2 linked regions of the Homo sapiens genome follow. The protein of the gene in region 2 purifies or fractionates together with the protein of the main gene of each other region. This does not show direct contact. Each region holds a gene or a part of one and is shown on either strand. Other genes may lie near its edges.

Region 1 (7,418 bases), on a different chromosome or scaffold from region 2:
TTTAAAATTGTTTTTTCATTCTCCATGGGAGTTAAAAAGTAGAAAGTAGAATCATGAGTGGACATGCGTTTTAATAAATTGGAGGTTTGTGTAATTTCAGTAACGTAATAATACCAGCTCTATTAAAAATGAAGAAATGGACCTTTTGTACTGGGAAGTAGTTGTAAGTCCACGTATTTGTCTTCTCACTGGTGTATATGTGTAAGCCCAATAATTGTGTTAGTTTATGTAGTTTCTTGTTTTTTTTGTTTTTTTTTTTTAGTGTCTATAAGTCAAGTCTTTGGTGTTAAAGATTTTAACTATCATTTGCTGTAATTCTTAGAAAGCCGAGGGACTAATCATTTATGTTTCGTGCATAAGGAAATGGGCGTTAGCTTCCCCAAGACCCCAGGAGCCAGGCATTGTTCTTACCCCAAAGCCTCAGGTCAGACTTCTGCTGCTTCACGTTAGAAGTCATGATCTTTTGTATTATGGTAAAGGGAGCTTGGAAAATTAAGTACTTTTAATTCCATTTAATGTTTCTTTCAGTCTTGAATCCAGATAATAGTTTTGAAATACTGGTTGACCAATCTGTGGTGAATAGTGGAAATCTGCTCAATGACATGACTCCTCCTGTAAATCCTTCACGTGAAATTGAGGACCCAGAAGACCGGAAGCCCGAGGATTGGGATGAAAGACCAAAAATCCCAGATCCAGAAGCTGTCAAGCCAGATGACTGGTGAGTCTTGGGGAACTGTCTTCAAGTGTAAGGGAGCATTTCATATATTCCATGTGGCTTGAACAACGAAATGTTGGTTGAGTAAGCTCTGATAATTTCAGTAATCCATGATGCAGTCTAATCTGTAGGGAAAATATAGAGTACTATAGCTGGAAAGGGGCCATAGTGTAATCATCTGGATTGACTCACCATTTTACAAGCCACAGAATGCCACACTTGATAAGAGTTTGTCTGTGGTGACACTGTTGGTTTGTGGCAGAATCTCAGGTCCTTTAACCTGGCTACTCCAGGGCTTCTGTGAACTCACATTTAAAGCCAAAGTTCTGAAATGCTAAATTTTAATTTGAAAAATAACCTTTTTCCTATTTAAACAACAGTCAATTCTCTGCTGTGGGTTGGGTGGTAGAATACAAAGCCACAAGGACACCACCATCTGCCTACACAGAGCTTGAAGTCCAGTTGTGAGGCATGATGTTGGCATGTGGTATCGTAAGGGTTCATGAGAAGGTGCCACAGGAGACCAGAGCACCAGGTGTACCTAAACTAGGCATGGTTTCTTGGAGCAAGGCAAATCAGATTGAGACTTGGCAGTGAGGTGAGAATTAAGGAGTTGGTGAATATGGGAAGGGGTGTTTCTGATTGAAGAATGTCGTATGCAGAAGTAGAGGAGCAGCAATGAGCTTGACATGCGAGGGAGAAATTACATGGCCTTTTATGTAGGGTGCACATTGAAGAGTGAGGAGAAATGAAGATAGCTGGGGCTGTATTCTTGTATATGGCTGTCTTTGAACTTGCAACTTCACACAGTGACTCCAGAAATGTCAGAAAGTGAACAAAGAAATTCTTACCCTTTGTAAAATATCCTCCTATGCTTAGCAATTACATTCTAGATTATCTTTTTCCTCCTTGAAAGGTAAGATACATATAACTGAACTTTTGTACTGCACTAGTATAAATGCCAAGTTTACTTGTATATTTGGTGTATATTAGATTTGGACTTAGCCTTGTTCAGTATTATATTCCTTAACTAGCTTTATCACCTAAGAAGGCCCCTGTACCCATTAAGCGGCCACTCCCTGTTTCCTCCCCCAACTCCCAGCAACCACTAACCTGCTTTCTGCCTCTCTACATTTGTCCACTTTGTATATTTCATATAAAATGGAATCATACAGTATGTGGCTTTCTCTGTCCAGTTTCTTTCATTTAGCACAGTGTTTTCCAGGTTTATCTGTGTTGAAGCATGTATCAGTACTGCATTCCTTTTTATGATTGAATAAATTCTACTGTTTTGATAATGCCACATTTTATTTATCCATCCTTTGGTGGACATTTAGGTTGTTTGCTCCTTTTTGTCTGTGATTATGAATAATGCTGCTATGAATGTTCATGTACTGGTTTTTACATAAATATGTTTTTTCTTTTCTTGCTTTTTTTTTTTTGAGATGGAGTGTAGCTCTGTCGCCCAGGCTGGAGTGCAGTGGCGCCATCACGGCTCACTGCAACCTCTGTCTCCCGAGTTCAAGTGATTCTCCCGCCCTAGCCTCCCAAGTAGCTGGGATCACAAGCGCATGCCACCACACCCAGCTAATTTTTGTATTTTTAGTAGACACGGGGTTTTACCATGTTGGTCAGGCTGATCTCGATCTCCTGACCTCAGGTGATCTACCCGCCTCAGCCTCCCAAAGTGCTGGGATTGCAGGCGTGAGCCACCACACCTGGCCTCTTTTCTTTAGACATGATCTCTGTGTTGCCCAGGTGGGAGTACAGTGGTACGGTCACGGCTCACTGCAGCTTCCACTTTCTGGGGTCAAGCGATCCTCTCCCGCCTTAGCTTCTCAAGTAGCTGGGACTGCAGGTATGCACGCCTGGCTAATTTTTATGGGTTTTTTGTTTGTTTGTTGAGACAGAGTCTCGTTTTGTCACCCAGGCTGGAGTGCAGTGGCACGATCTCGTCTCATTGCAACCTCTGCCTCCCGGGTTCAAACGATTCTCGTGCCTCAGCATCCCAAGTAGCTGGGACTACAAGCGTGCACCACTGCACTCGTGCCTCACCCTCCAAGTAGCTGGGACTACAAGCGCGCACTACTACAAAAAATTCTTGTATTTTTAGTAGAGATGGGATTTCACCATGTTGGCCAGGATGGTCTCAAAATTCTGATGTCAAGTGATCTACCAGCCTCAGCCTCCCAAAGTGCTGGGATTACAGGCGTGTGCCACCGTGCCTGGCTGTGCATGTTTTTTCTTTTTTTTTGAGACGGAGCTTCGCTCTTGTCGCCCAGGCTGGAGTGTAGTGGCGTGATCTTGGCTCACCACAACCTCTGCCTCCCGGTTTCAAGTGATTCTCCTGCCTCAGCCTCCTGAGTAGCTGGGATTACAGGCATGTGCCACCACGCCCAGCTAATTTTGTATTTTTAGTAGAGATGGGGTTTCTCCATGTTGGTCAGGCTGGTCTCAAACTCCCGACCTCAGGTGATCTGCCCACCTTGGCCTCCCAAAGTGCTAGGATTACAGGCATGAGCCACTACACCTGGCTTAATTTTTGTATTTTTTGGTAGAGACAGGGTGTCGTCATATTGGTCAGGCCGGTCTTGAACTCCTGTCCTCAGGTGATCCACCCGCCTTGGCCTCCCAAAGTGCTGGGATTACAGGTGTGAGCCACCGCACCTGGCCTTGTGTATTTTTTTTTTTTTACTAGAGACTGGGTTTCACCTTGTTGCCCAGGCTGGTGTGGCCTCAAGTGATCCTCCTGCCTTGGCCTCCCAAAGTGCTGAGATTACAGGCATGAGCCACTCTGTCTAGCTATAGATATATATTTTCATTTCTCTTGGGTATATATACCTAAAAGTGGAATTGCTGGGTCATGTGGTAACTAACTTTTTGAGAAACTGCCAAACTGTTTTCCAAATGAGCAGTACCATTTTACTTTCCCACCAGCAGTGTATGAGGGTTTCAGTTTCTCTGCGTTCTTTCCAGCATTTGTTTTTATGAGTCTTTTTTATTAGAGCCAACTTGGTACTAAGTGGTATCGTTTTGATTTGCCATTTCCCTGATGGCTAATGATGTTAAGCATCTTTTCGTGTGCTTATTGTATGTTCATATTGTATATTTTTACATTCGTATGTCTTCTTTGGAGAAATGTCTATTAAAATCATTTGCCCATTTTTAAATTGGGTTGTCTTTATATTATTGAGTTGTAAAGAGTTATTTTACTAGGCCCTTAGCAGATATATGATTTACAAGTATTTTCTAAGAGGAATTATTTTAAATTTTGAGATTAAAAACAAATTTTTTTAGAATACTCTGTTCTGATCCACAAAGTGGTACTATACTGTGACCAGTGTTGTCATAACTGGCTTTTTCTTTTGTATTTAAGGGATGAAGATGCCCCTGCTAAGATTCCAGATGAAGAGGCCACAAAACCCGAAGGCTGGTTAGATGATGAGCCTGAGTACGTACCTGATCCAGACGCAGAGAAACCTGAGGATTGGTAAGAACTTCAGTTAACTTTTTTTAATTACCTGGTTTTTTTGTTTGTTTTTTTTTTTGAGATGGAGTCTCACTCTGTCTCCCAGGCTGGAGTTCAGTGGCGCAGTTTCGGCTCACTGCAACTTTCACCTCCTGGGTTCAAGTGATTCTCCTCCATCAGCCTTGCGAGTAGCTGGGATTACAGGTGTGTGCCACCACACCCGGCAAATTTTTGTATTTTTTGTATTTTTAGTAGAGACGGACTTTCACCGTGTTGGCCAGGCTGGTCTCAAAGTCCTGACCTCAAGTGATCTGTCTGCCTTGGCCTCCCAAAGTGCTGGGATTACAGGCGTGAGCCACCACACCCAGCATAAGTTACCTGTTTTTATTGAAGTCAATCTTAATACTTAAATATAGCCAAGTTCCCTAATTTCAGGGTAGAATTTGACAATTTTAATTATATTTTCTTCTTTTTTAAAAAATAAATTTTTCCTGAAAAACTGTTATTACTGGAAATACAGGAGAAGCTGGTCTGGGATACTGTGAAAACATTTCAGCAGGATCTTGGCAGCCCTGGGCCAGCCAGCTGTTCATAGTCCTGCATCACAGAACCTGTTTATAATTTGTTGTTTGTACCTCCGTAGGGATGAAGACATGGATGGAGAATGGGAGGCTCCTCAGATTGCCAACCCTAGATGTGAGTCAGCTCCTGGATGTGGTGTCTGGCAGCGACCTGTGATTGACAACCCCAATTATAAAGGCAAATGGAAGCCTCCTATGATTGACAATCCCAGTTACCAGGTTTGTGCCTCTTGATGGTTGAGTTGCTTTCATTAATCTGTTTGTATTCAGATAGAAGTTTTATCTAGAGTAAGGCTGCCAGGTTGGTCATTATATTCAAGCTGTTGAATTAAAAGCAGAAAGTAGACTTCCTAAGTTGAAAGAGAGCTTAATGGGTTAGGTATTGCAAAGATAAACCTAGAAACTGGAGTGAATAACTTTCTTTAACTTTATTTATTTATTTATTTATTTATTTATTTTTGAGATGGAGTTTCGCTCTTCTACCCAGGCTGGAGGGCAGTGGTGTGATGTCGCCTCACTGCAACCTCTGCCTTCCGGTTTCAAGCGATTCTCTTGCCTCAGACTCCCGAGTAGCTGGGATTACAGGTGCCTGCCACCACGCCTGGCTAATTTTTATATTTTTAGCAGAGATGGTGTTTCACCATGTTGGCCAGGCTGGTCTCGAACTCCTGACCTCGCGATCCGCCCACCTCAACCTCCTAAAGTGCTGGGATTACAGGCGTGAGCCACTGCATCTGGTCAACTTTCTTTTTTTGAGACTGAGTCTCACTCTAGTGGCCAGGCTGGAGTGCAATGGCTCAGTCTCGGCACACTGCCACCTCCACCTCCTGGGTTCAAGCAATTCTCCTGACTCAGCCTCCCGAGTAGCTGGGAGCACAGGTGTGCTCACAGGTGTGCTCACCTCACCTGGCTGATTTTTTGTATTTTTAGTAGAGACGGGGCTTCGCCATGTTGGCCAGGCTGGTCTCGAACTCCTGACCTCAGGTGATCCACCTGCCTTCGCCTTTCGAAGTCCTGGGGTTTCAGGCGGGAGCCACTGTGCCCAGCCAAGAATAACTTTCATAGTTGCTTTGTAACTATATTTAAAAACAAAAGAGAAATGGAAAACTGTTGATTTGGGTACCCTGCTCTTGGGTGCTAGGGTTGCTTCAGCCATAGGATCCACAGCTGAGTCTGGACAATCTGTGATGTGGTGGGTAGAGGACTGTGGTTTGAGTCAGCATCTTGACTACATCAAGTCAGCTCACTGCTTGGCCTCAATGCTTGCAACTATAAAAAGACTGAGGCCCAAAAGAGATGGTAAGGATACAAGTAGTAAGGTTGTGAGGCTTTAGGCCTCATGCAAAAATGTACACCCTCAGACCTTTGTTCCTTTTATCTTTCTAGCCAAGTAAAATTATTTATAATCTCTACAAAGAGTGGCAATTAAAATTATTTATAATCATTAATTTCTACTTTATTTATATACAAATACTAATATATGTATATACATATACAGAAACAGGAGAAGCTGGTCTGATACTGTGAAAACATTTCAGCAGGATCTTGGCATAGTATATGTATATATACATATACTAATATATGTTTTTCTGTTTGTAAATTTTTTATTTTTTTCCTCATAGTCGTTAAAGATGTTATGTGAATGTATTTTTAATTGTGTAGTCAAACAATAAGATAAAAGTTTTACTTTAAAAAAGTTGCCCTTTAGGCTGGGCGTAGTGGCTCACGCCTATAATCCCAGCACTTGAGAGGCTGAGGTGGGTGGATCACCTGAGGTCAGCCATTCGAGACCAGCCTGGCCAACATAGTGAAACACCATCTCTACTAAAAGCACAAAAATTGGCCTGGTATGGTGGCACACACCTGTAGTCCCAGCTGCTTAGGCACGAGGCTGAGGCACAAGGATCACTTGAACACAGGAGGCAGAAGTTACAGTGAAAAAGAAGTTGCCCTTTAGTTGTTCTCCTGTTGGTGGCCATTTAGGTGGATTGTCACTTTTGCTTTCAGAGTCACTGCTGCTGTAATAATCCTTGTACATGTCTGGGTGTATGTTGTGAGTATTTCTCTAGGTAGTTATCTAGAAGTGAATTGCTGGTTGATGATCATGTGCGTTTTATTTTAAATCACCACTGAAGAAGTACGTACTGACTTATGCTCCCACTCTCATTAGCAGTTGCTAAGAGTGGAGGCTGTTGAATGGGCCAGGAACTTGAGGGGTTGGTTTGGACCAAGGTCATGGGTGACAGTAGAAATTGGAAGTAGTTGGAATCCTGCAGTCTTAGAGGCAGAGTGCGTAAAATAATCTGTAGCATTTGTTATTTATTTTCCTGTTGCTTATTTCAAGTTTCATGAAGTTGGCATTTCTCTCCATTGTTCATGCAAAATTTCTCTTACGGTAGATTCACCATAAACTTTTGTTGATCATTATCTGAAATGATTTTCTGAAACATTTTTTTTTCTAGGGAATCTGGAAACCCAGGAAAATACCAAATCCAGATTTCTTTGAAGATCTGGAACCTTTCAGAATGACTCCTTTTAGTGCTATTGGTTTGGAGCTGTGGTCCATGACCTCTGACATTTTTTTTGACAACTTTATCATTTGTGCTGATCGAAGAATAGTTGATGATTGGGCCAATGATGGATGGGGCCTGAA
Region 2 (7,418 bases):
GAACATTCACTGGATTCCTCTTCCAGGGAAAGGAGCTGGGGGTGGAAGTGTGGAAGGACTGAGTGTTGTTTCTTTTCCAACTCCAGGCAGTGACTCCGGCTGCCAATCATGACTGTCAATCATCGTAGTAATAATCTAACTTGGTGAACACCGTTTTGCAGCCTTTATCTGAGAAAACTCTCTCCTCTTTGGGGAAAAATGTCATCTCCTCAGCCACTCTGCTTACAATGTCTTCATCAATTTCATAGCCTCGGGACTGCATTTCCACTCGGATACACATTTTTAGGTGTTTGTATTCCAGGGGGAGGAAGGGAACAAAATAATCAATGAGGTTCCGGTCAATTAAGCTGCTGTGCCAGAAGCCACCTGGGAAGAAGAAACAAGGTGCTGTTCATCCACATCCACCCACCTGCCCTATAGACGCCTCCTGGGGGTCACTTACCTACCCTCCCATCCGTCCCACAAACGTCTACTGGGGGTCACCTATCCATGCCACACACACCTACTGGGGGTCACCCACCCACCCCCCCCACATCTACTAGGGGTCACCCACCCTCCCATCCATCCCATACACACCTACTGGGTGTCATCCACCCTCCTATCCATCCCATACACATCTACTGGGTGTCATCCACCCTCCTATCCATCCCACACATACCTACTGGGTGTGCCCTCTCCCTTGTGGAGCTCCAGATCAGTGGGGAAGGCAGATGTTAACAGGCACCTGCACATTGTAATGCTTCTGTGACAGCAGAAGCTGTGACAGCCCTCTTTACACGGCGGGCTGGGGGAGGCCTCCCAAGGTATGACTTAAGAGATCGAAGATGGGAAAGAGGTCCTGGGGCCCAGGAACAAGCAGAGAGGCAGAGTGGGGAAGGCAGAGTTCCACAGAAAGCGGGAAGCAAGAAGAATTCCCGGGAAGGACTACCAGCCACGCCTCTGTATTTGGGAACTTTTTGACTCTCCCTGGAGTTTCAGCAGCTGGACTAGCAACAGGGAAGCCTGCTGCCGCTGCCACAGTGCCCAGACCCTGCAGAGCATGTGGGCACCAAAACTAGCCTGGAGAGTGCAGATGTGCAGCCCACGCTGGGCTCCCCGTGAAGGCCTGGCCTTGGCCGTGTTTTCTCCCCTGAATGCGGGCTGGCTCTGCACTGACCCGTCCACTCCTCCTGGGCTCCTGGAACTCCTGACCCAGGACACTTCCTCCCAGCCCCAGATGACACAGCACACACTGCGTCGCCCACGAGCCCATGCGTGTCTTCTACTGAGCTGATTCCCTTCTGGTCTGCCATGTAATTCTGGGGCTCCGTCCCCAACCCAAGCTCCTCCTCATTCACTGGGTTAATGCTTTTCATGCCCAACAGTGCTTTGCACACAACTGGTACTCAATAAATGTGTGGCTGACTGACAGAGTGGAGCCTATGGCCAGGGAAAGAACAGAACCAACCACTGAATGGGAACGAGGGGCTGTCTTGCTATCATGAACTCACGTGGGAGGCTGGTTCTCAGAGGCCTGCTCTGTGCCAGGCACGCCCTGGGCCTGGGGACACAGCTGAGGGCAGACGGACCTCACGGCTTTACCACTCTAGGGCAGGAAACAATCTCAGATGGTGCTTGGAGTGGCGAATGCCACACAGCAGAACGGACATGGAGAGCGGGAGGTGGAGCAGGCTGGGCAGGACCTCAGGGCAGAGCCCGAGCAACAAGGACCCAGCCACGCAGACCCAGGAGTGACGGCAGAACAGGTGACCTCAGGCAGCCCTGAGACTTCACAGTCATCTCCTGAGGACTCCCAAGTTTGCCCTCCTGGCCTGATGGCCTCCCTGGAGCTTCGTGGCTCTGCTCTGATGCCCTGATGCCATTGCCCACTGAGCTCGCCCGTCCTTCCTGCTGTCCCTTCCCTTCAATGGCAGTGCCACCCTTCCCATCGCTCAAGCCAGGTCCTTGATTCTTCTCTCATTCCCATATACAATTCTGCAGGAAGTCTTACAGGTTCTACCTTCAAAACACACCCAGAAGCCAACCGTGTCCCTCCACCCCCACCGCTTCCACGCTGGGCTCCCTGCCCCTGTGGCTGTGGGTCTGTCCTCCATCCAGTTGCCAGCAAGGTCCTGTGAAGGCCCCGTCAGATCACAGCACCACCTGCCCAGGACCCTCCAGGCCTCTCTCTTCCACTTGGAATAAGACTCAAGGTTCACCATGGCCCGCCAGGCTTCCCACGGTCTGCACCTCCACCCCAAATCTCGCCTCTTCTATCACCTCCCGTTTCCCTCCTCTGTTTATCCTCAACCAGTCACAGGGACCCCAAGCACAGGCCCCCCTCGGGCCCCTGGACGTGCTGTCCGCACTGGGGAATGCTTTTCCCTCAGACATCCACATGGCTCACTCCCCCGGGTCAGCCCAAATGCCACCCTCACAGGGAGCCTTCCCTGTCCACTCTATTAAAGCAGAGCCCATCCTTACCCTGAACCCCAAAGCCTTTCTTGATTTTTTTCCCCTACTGGCCCCGGGGGGAAAGATATCTATATGTCCACATGTGTACATGTGCGATGTGTGCATATGTACTGCATGTATACACACAAACACATCACACACATCAACATATCTATCCCCCATCATCTGATACATTTTCTTTCTTTATTATCACTAGGATGTAGGATTGATAAGGGCAAGAATTTCTGTGTTTGTTCACTGCTGTGTCCCCCGTCCTAGGTATGATGCCTGGCACTTACCAGATGCTCCATATACATGTGCTGAATCAATGTTCAGCCATCTGCCTGAGGTCACAGTCAGTCTGTGGGCCAGGGCTGCCCGACTCCCAGGTTGGCACTCCTAAGCACCGTGTAACCTCCACAGCGTGGATTCTAGGCCACGGGGCTCATCTGCCTCAGCATTAGGCTAAAGTTTCCACTGCATGTGCTCATGTTTTTTGGCAAGGCAAGAAACTATCCAACATGTTACAAAATACTTGTCTTTCCTCAGTAGTATTCCACTTGCACACACTGACATACTGTACCCCATGCTGTTCACTAACTGTAGGATTAATTTCTTGGCAAGTCTGTTTCAAATGAGCCCTTCTGTTTTGTCATCTCCAGAACCTGAAGCGCAAAGACTTGAACAGCCAGCCCTGCACAACTCACAGGTCTTAGCCAGTGAGTCAGCCTCCATCAGGCTGGCTTTCCACCTCCCCAGGTTCAAGGTCAAAGGTCTCATGACATTTGGAGAAGTAGTGAGCTAAAACTTAAAAGCTCAGGTTTTAGAATCAGAGATACCGAACAGGCTGCATGGCCCTGGGCAAGCTGCCACATCTCTGAGTCTCAGTCTCTACCCTGCGAGGTATGGTGAAGACTGAGTGAAATCCGCAGGCAGGCTGTTTCACACGGTGCCCAGTACAAAATAAGGGCCGAACCGCTATTTGGCTGTTGCTCTTGGGCAATGCAGAGAAAGGGAGGAACTAACAGGTCATCTCTCCCCCTGAGCTGCCCACGGCATCCTTCCTTGCTCAACCACTGGCTCTTTCTTCTACAAAGAAAATCATGTAGCTGAAGAAAATGGGGGAACTGGCCAGGCGTGGTGGCTCACGCCTGTAATCCCAGCACTTTGGGAGGCCGAGGCAGGCGGATCACGAGGTCAGGAGATAAGACCATCCTGGCTAACATGGTGAAACCCCGTTTCTACTAAAAATACAAAAAATTTGCCGAGTGTGGTGGCAGGTGCCTGTAGTCCCAGCTACTCGGCAGGCTGAGGCAGGAGAATGGTGTGAACCTGGGAGGCAGAGCTTGCAGTGAGCCGAGATCGCGCCACTGCACTCCAGCCTGGGCAACAGAGCGAGACTCCATCTCAAAAAAAAAAAAAAAACAGCAGGCCAGGTATGTAGCTCATGCCTATAATTCCAGCACTTTGGGAGGCTGAGGCGGGAGGATGACTTAAGTCCAGGAAGTCAAGACCAGCCTGGGAAACATAGGAAGACCCAGTCTCTACCAAAAAAAAAAAAAAAAAAAAAAAAAAAAATTAGCCAGGCATGGTGGCGCAAGCCTGTGGTTCCACCTACATGGGAAGCTGAGGCTGGAGGATCACTTGAGCCTAGGAAGTCAAGACTCCAGTGAGCTGAGATCACACCACTGGACTCCAGCCTGGGTGACAGAGTGAGACTCTGTCTCAAAAAATAAGCTGAGCACAGTGGCTCACGCCTGTAATCCCAGCACTTTGGGAGGCCGAGGTGGGCGGATCACCTGAGGTAAGAGTTCAAGACCAGCCTGGCCAACATGACAAAACCCCATCTCTACTAAAAATACAAATATTAGCTGGGCATGGTGTGCACCTGTAATCCCAGCTACTCAGGAGGCTGAGGCACAAGAATCGCTTGAGCCCGGGAGGCAGAGGTTGCAGTGAGGCAAGGTTACGCCACTGCACTCCAGCCTAGGTGACAGAGTAAAACTATCTGAAAAATAAAAATAAAACAGCACTTGTCAAACATTAGTGTTCATAAAAGTTACCTGGAGTTCATCAGCAAAGATTCCCCTCATGACTCGGAAGGGGACTGAGAATCTGCATTTCTTTCTACCCAGCTCCCAGGTGATGCTGACAGTGACCCTGATGCTTTTAACACTTAGGGTGCAGGATTAGGAACCAGATGGGACTGGCGGTGGATGGCCCTACTCACTGTTCTTGTTATTGAAAACCGACACAGACAACGCGTGTTCAATGTCTTTGAGCTTGATGTCTTCCCTCTGCTTTCCACTCCTCCAGAAATCCAAAGCCACATCTGTGATCCTTTCTGCTCCAGCATTGCTGCAAAACAATCCCAGTGGGTAAGGACAGGGTTTTCTCCTGGAGCTCAGAGGCTTGGGCTCGGGGCCCATCCATCATGTCCTAGCCCTGACCTTACCTGAGAAATATGAACATGGCTTTCTGGTAGGAGACCCCATCCACCAGGTCATAATAGTCGAGGAAAGGCTTGATGGCATCTATGAGGCCTGCATGCATCTTATCCATTTCATCAAATATGAAGATGGACCTCGCACAGGCACTCACGTTGCCTCGAATCCACAACTGTAACTGATCCTGAATTAAAAGGGGAAAAAGCGAACACAAAGTTCTCAGCCAGGGCCATCAATCAGCTCCTTCTACCACTAAGAACCGCAGCTTCACTTACAGACCACTGTGCACTCGGCACTAAGAACTTTACATGCCCAAAATCTTCTTTGTTCCTACCAACCCCATGGAGTGGGCACTATCGTTCTCATTTTACAGATGAGGGAACTGAGGCACAGAGAGCGCTTACTCCACTTGCCCAAGACTATATGTGGCAGAGCTGGGACCTGAACCCAGTCCTGTCTCACTCCAAAGCCCGATACTTTGGTTACGGTTCCCGCACTGCGAGATGCCACACGGATGCTGTCAGAGATGCTGCTCTTTTGTCATCAAAGGGGCAATGTGGGATGTCATGAGGATACTGATTTTTATTTAAAAAGGGGGTGGGGTCGGGCATGGTGGCTCACACCTGTAATCCCAGCACTTTGGGAGGCTGAGGCAGACGGATAAGTTGAGGTCAGGGGTTTGAGACCAGCCTGGCCAACATGGTGAAACCCCATCTCTATTAAAATACAAAAATTAGGGCCAGGCATGGTGGTTCATGCCTGTAATCCCAGCACTTTGGGAGGCCAAAGTGGGTGGATCACCTGAGGTCAGGAGTTCAAGACCAGCCTGGCCAACATGGTGAAACCTGGTCTCTACTAAAAAAAATACAAAAAAATTAGCTGGGTATGGTGGCAGGTGCTTATAGTCCCAGCTACTCAGGAGGCTGAGGTAGAATTGCATGAACCTGGGAGGCGGAGGTTGCGGTGAGCCAAGATCAAGCCATTGCACTCCAGCGTGGCGACAGAGCAAGACTCCATTAAAAAAAAAAATACAAAAATTAGCCAGGCATAGTGGCAGGCGCCTGTAATCCCAGGTACTTGGGAGGCTGAGGCTTGAGAATCGCTGGAACCTGGGAGGTGGAGGTTGCAGTGAGCTAAGATCACCCCACTGCACTCCAGCACTCCAGCCTGGGAGACAGAGCAAGACTCCGTCTCAAAAAAAAAAAATAATAATAATAATAAATAAATAAAATAAAATAAAATAAATAAATAAAATAAACAAGGATTCACTCAGACCTGTTAGGCTCCAGCAGCCAAGGTTTCTCACTCTGGTGACCAAACTTATATGCAATAACAGGGAACATGCACTGAGTGTTCACTATGGGAACAACAATATTCTAAGCACTGTTCATATAACTTTTTTTTTTTGACAGTCTCGCTCTGTTACCCAGACTGGAGTGCAATGACATGATCTCAGCTCACTGCAACCTCTGCCTCCCAGATTCAAGCGATTCCCTTGCCTCAGCCCCCTGAGTAGCTGAGACTACAGGCACCTGCCACCACGCCCAGCTAATTTTTGTATTTTTAGTAGAGATGGGGTTTCACCATCTTGGCCAGGCTGGTCTTGAACTCTTGACCTTGTGATCCACCCGCTTCGGCCTCCCAAAGTGCTGGGATTACAGGCGCGAGCCACCACACCTGGTCTGTTCATAGAACATTTTACTGTGACCTCCCAAAACCCATCACGGTAGTTACCATTGTGCTCCTTCTTTTACAAATGAGAAAACTGAGGCACAGACAAGTGAAGTAACTTTGCCCAAAGTCACAGTTATTGTTAGTGAAGCCTCAATTCTAAGATGATCAACTTATCCTGATTCGTCTAGAATGGTTCTTGTTTGTTTGGGACAGGGTCTCACTCCGTCACCCAGGCTGGACTGCAGTGGCTGTCTGCTCACTGCAGCCTCGACCTCCCAGGTTCAAGCCATCCTTCTGCCTCAGCCCCCTAAGTAGCTGGGACTACAGGTGCATGCCACCATGCCTGACTAATTTTTTTGTATTTTTTTAGTAGAGATGGGGTTTCACCATGTTCCCCAGGCTGGTCTGGAACTCTTGAGCTCAAGGGATCAGCCGGTTTTGGCTTCCCGTAGTGCTAGAATTATAGGCATGAGCCACCACACCCGTGGAACATTCGCATTTTAGTACAGAACCGCTGGACAGTGGGTGACCCACACGCTCACCCAGACAGAAGGGAAAAATGTGTTCACATTTTTCCATAGATACAGTCAGGGATAAATAACTGATTGAGGCCAGGCATGGTGGCTCATACCTGTAATTTCAGCACTTTGGGAAGTAGAGACAGCTGGATGACCTTGAGGTCAGGAGTTTGAGACCAGCCTGGCCAACAAGGTGAAACCCTGTCTCTATTAAAAATACAAAAATTAGCTGGGTGTGGTGGCAGGTGCCTGTAATACCAGCTACTTGGGAGGCTGAGGCAGCAGAATCACTTGAATCCGGGAGGCAGAGTTTGCGGTGAGCCGAGATCAAGATCCAGATGGTGCT

The links. The genes of interacting proteins can lie anywhere in the genome.
Region 1: the proteins of TOR1A (region 2) and CANX purify together in Homo sapiens (affinity purification with mass spectrometry; 5 studies listed by BioGRID and IntAct, with this or other methods). This does not show direct contact.

The regions. Positions count from the first base shown.
Region 1 is NC_000005.10:179,715,577-179,722,994, forward strand, and holds part of CANX (calnexin isoform d precursor), read left to right. Parts: intron 1-322; coding exon of another isoform or gene 323-424; intron 425-528; coding exon 529-718; intron 719-4,091; coding exon 4,092-4,205; intron 4,206-4,827; coding exon 4,828-4,984; intron 4,985-7,227; coding exon 7,228-7,418. UniProt on the Homo sapiens protein: Calcium-binding protein that interacts with newly synthesized monoglucosylated glycoproteins in the endoplasmic reticulum. It may act in assisting protein assembly and/or in the retention within the ER of unassembled protein subunits.
Region 2 is NC_000009.12:129,813,857-129,821,274, forward strand, and holds part of TOR1A (torsin-1A precursor), read right to left. Parts: intron 5,065-7,418; coding exon 4,889-5,064; intron 4,792-4,888; coding exon 4,664-4,791; intron 367-4,663; coding exon 116-366; 3' UTR 1-115. UniProt on the Homo sapiens protein: Protein with chaperone functions important for the control of protein folding, processing, stability and localization as well as for the reduction of misfolded protein aggregates.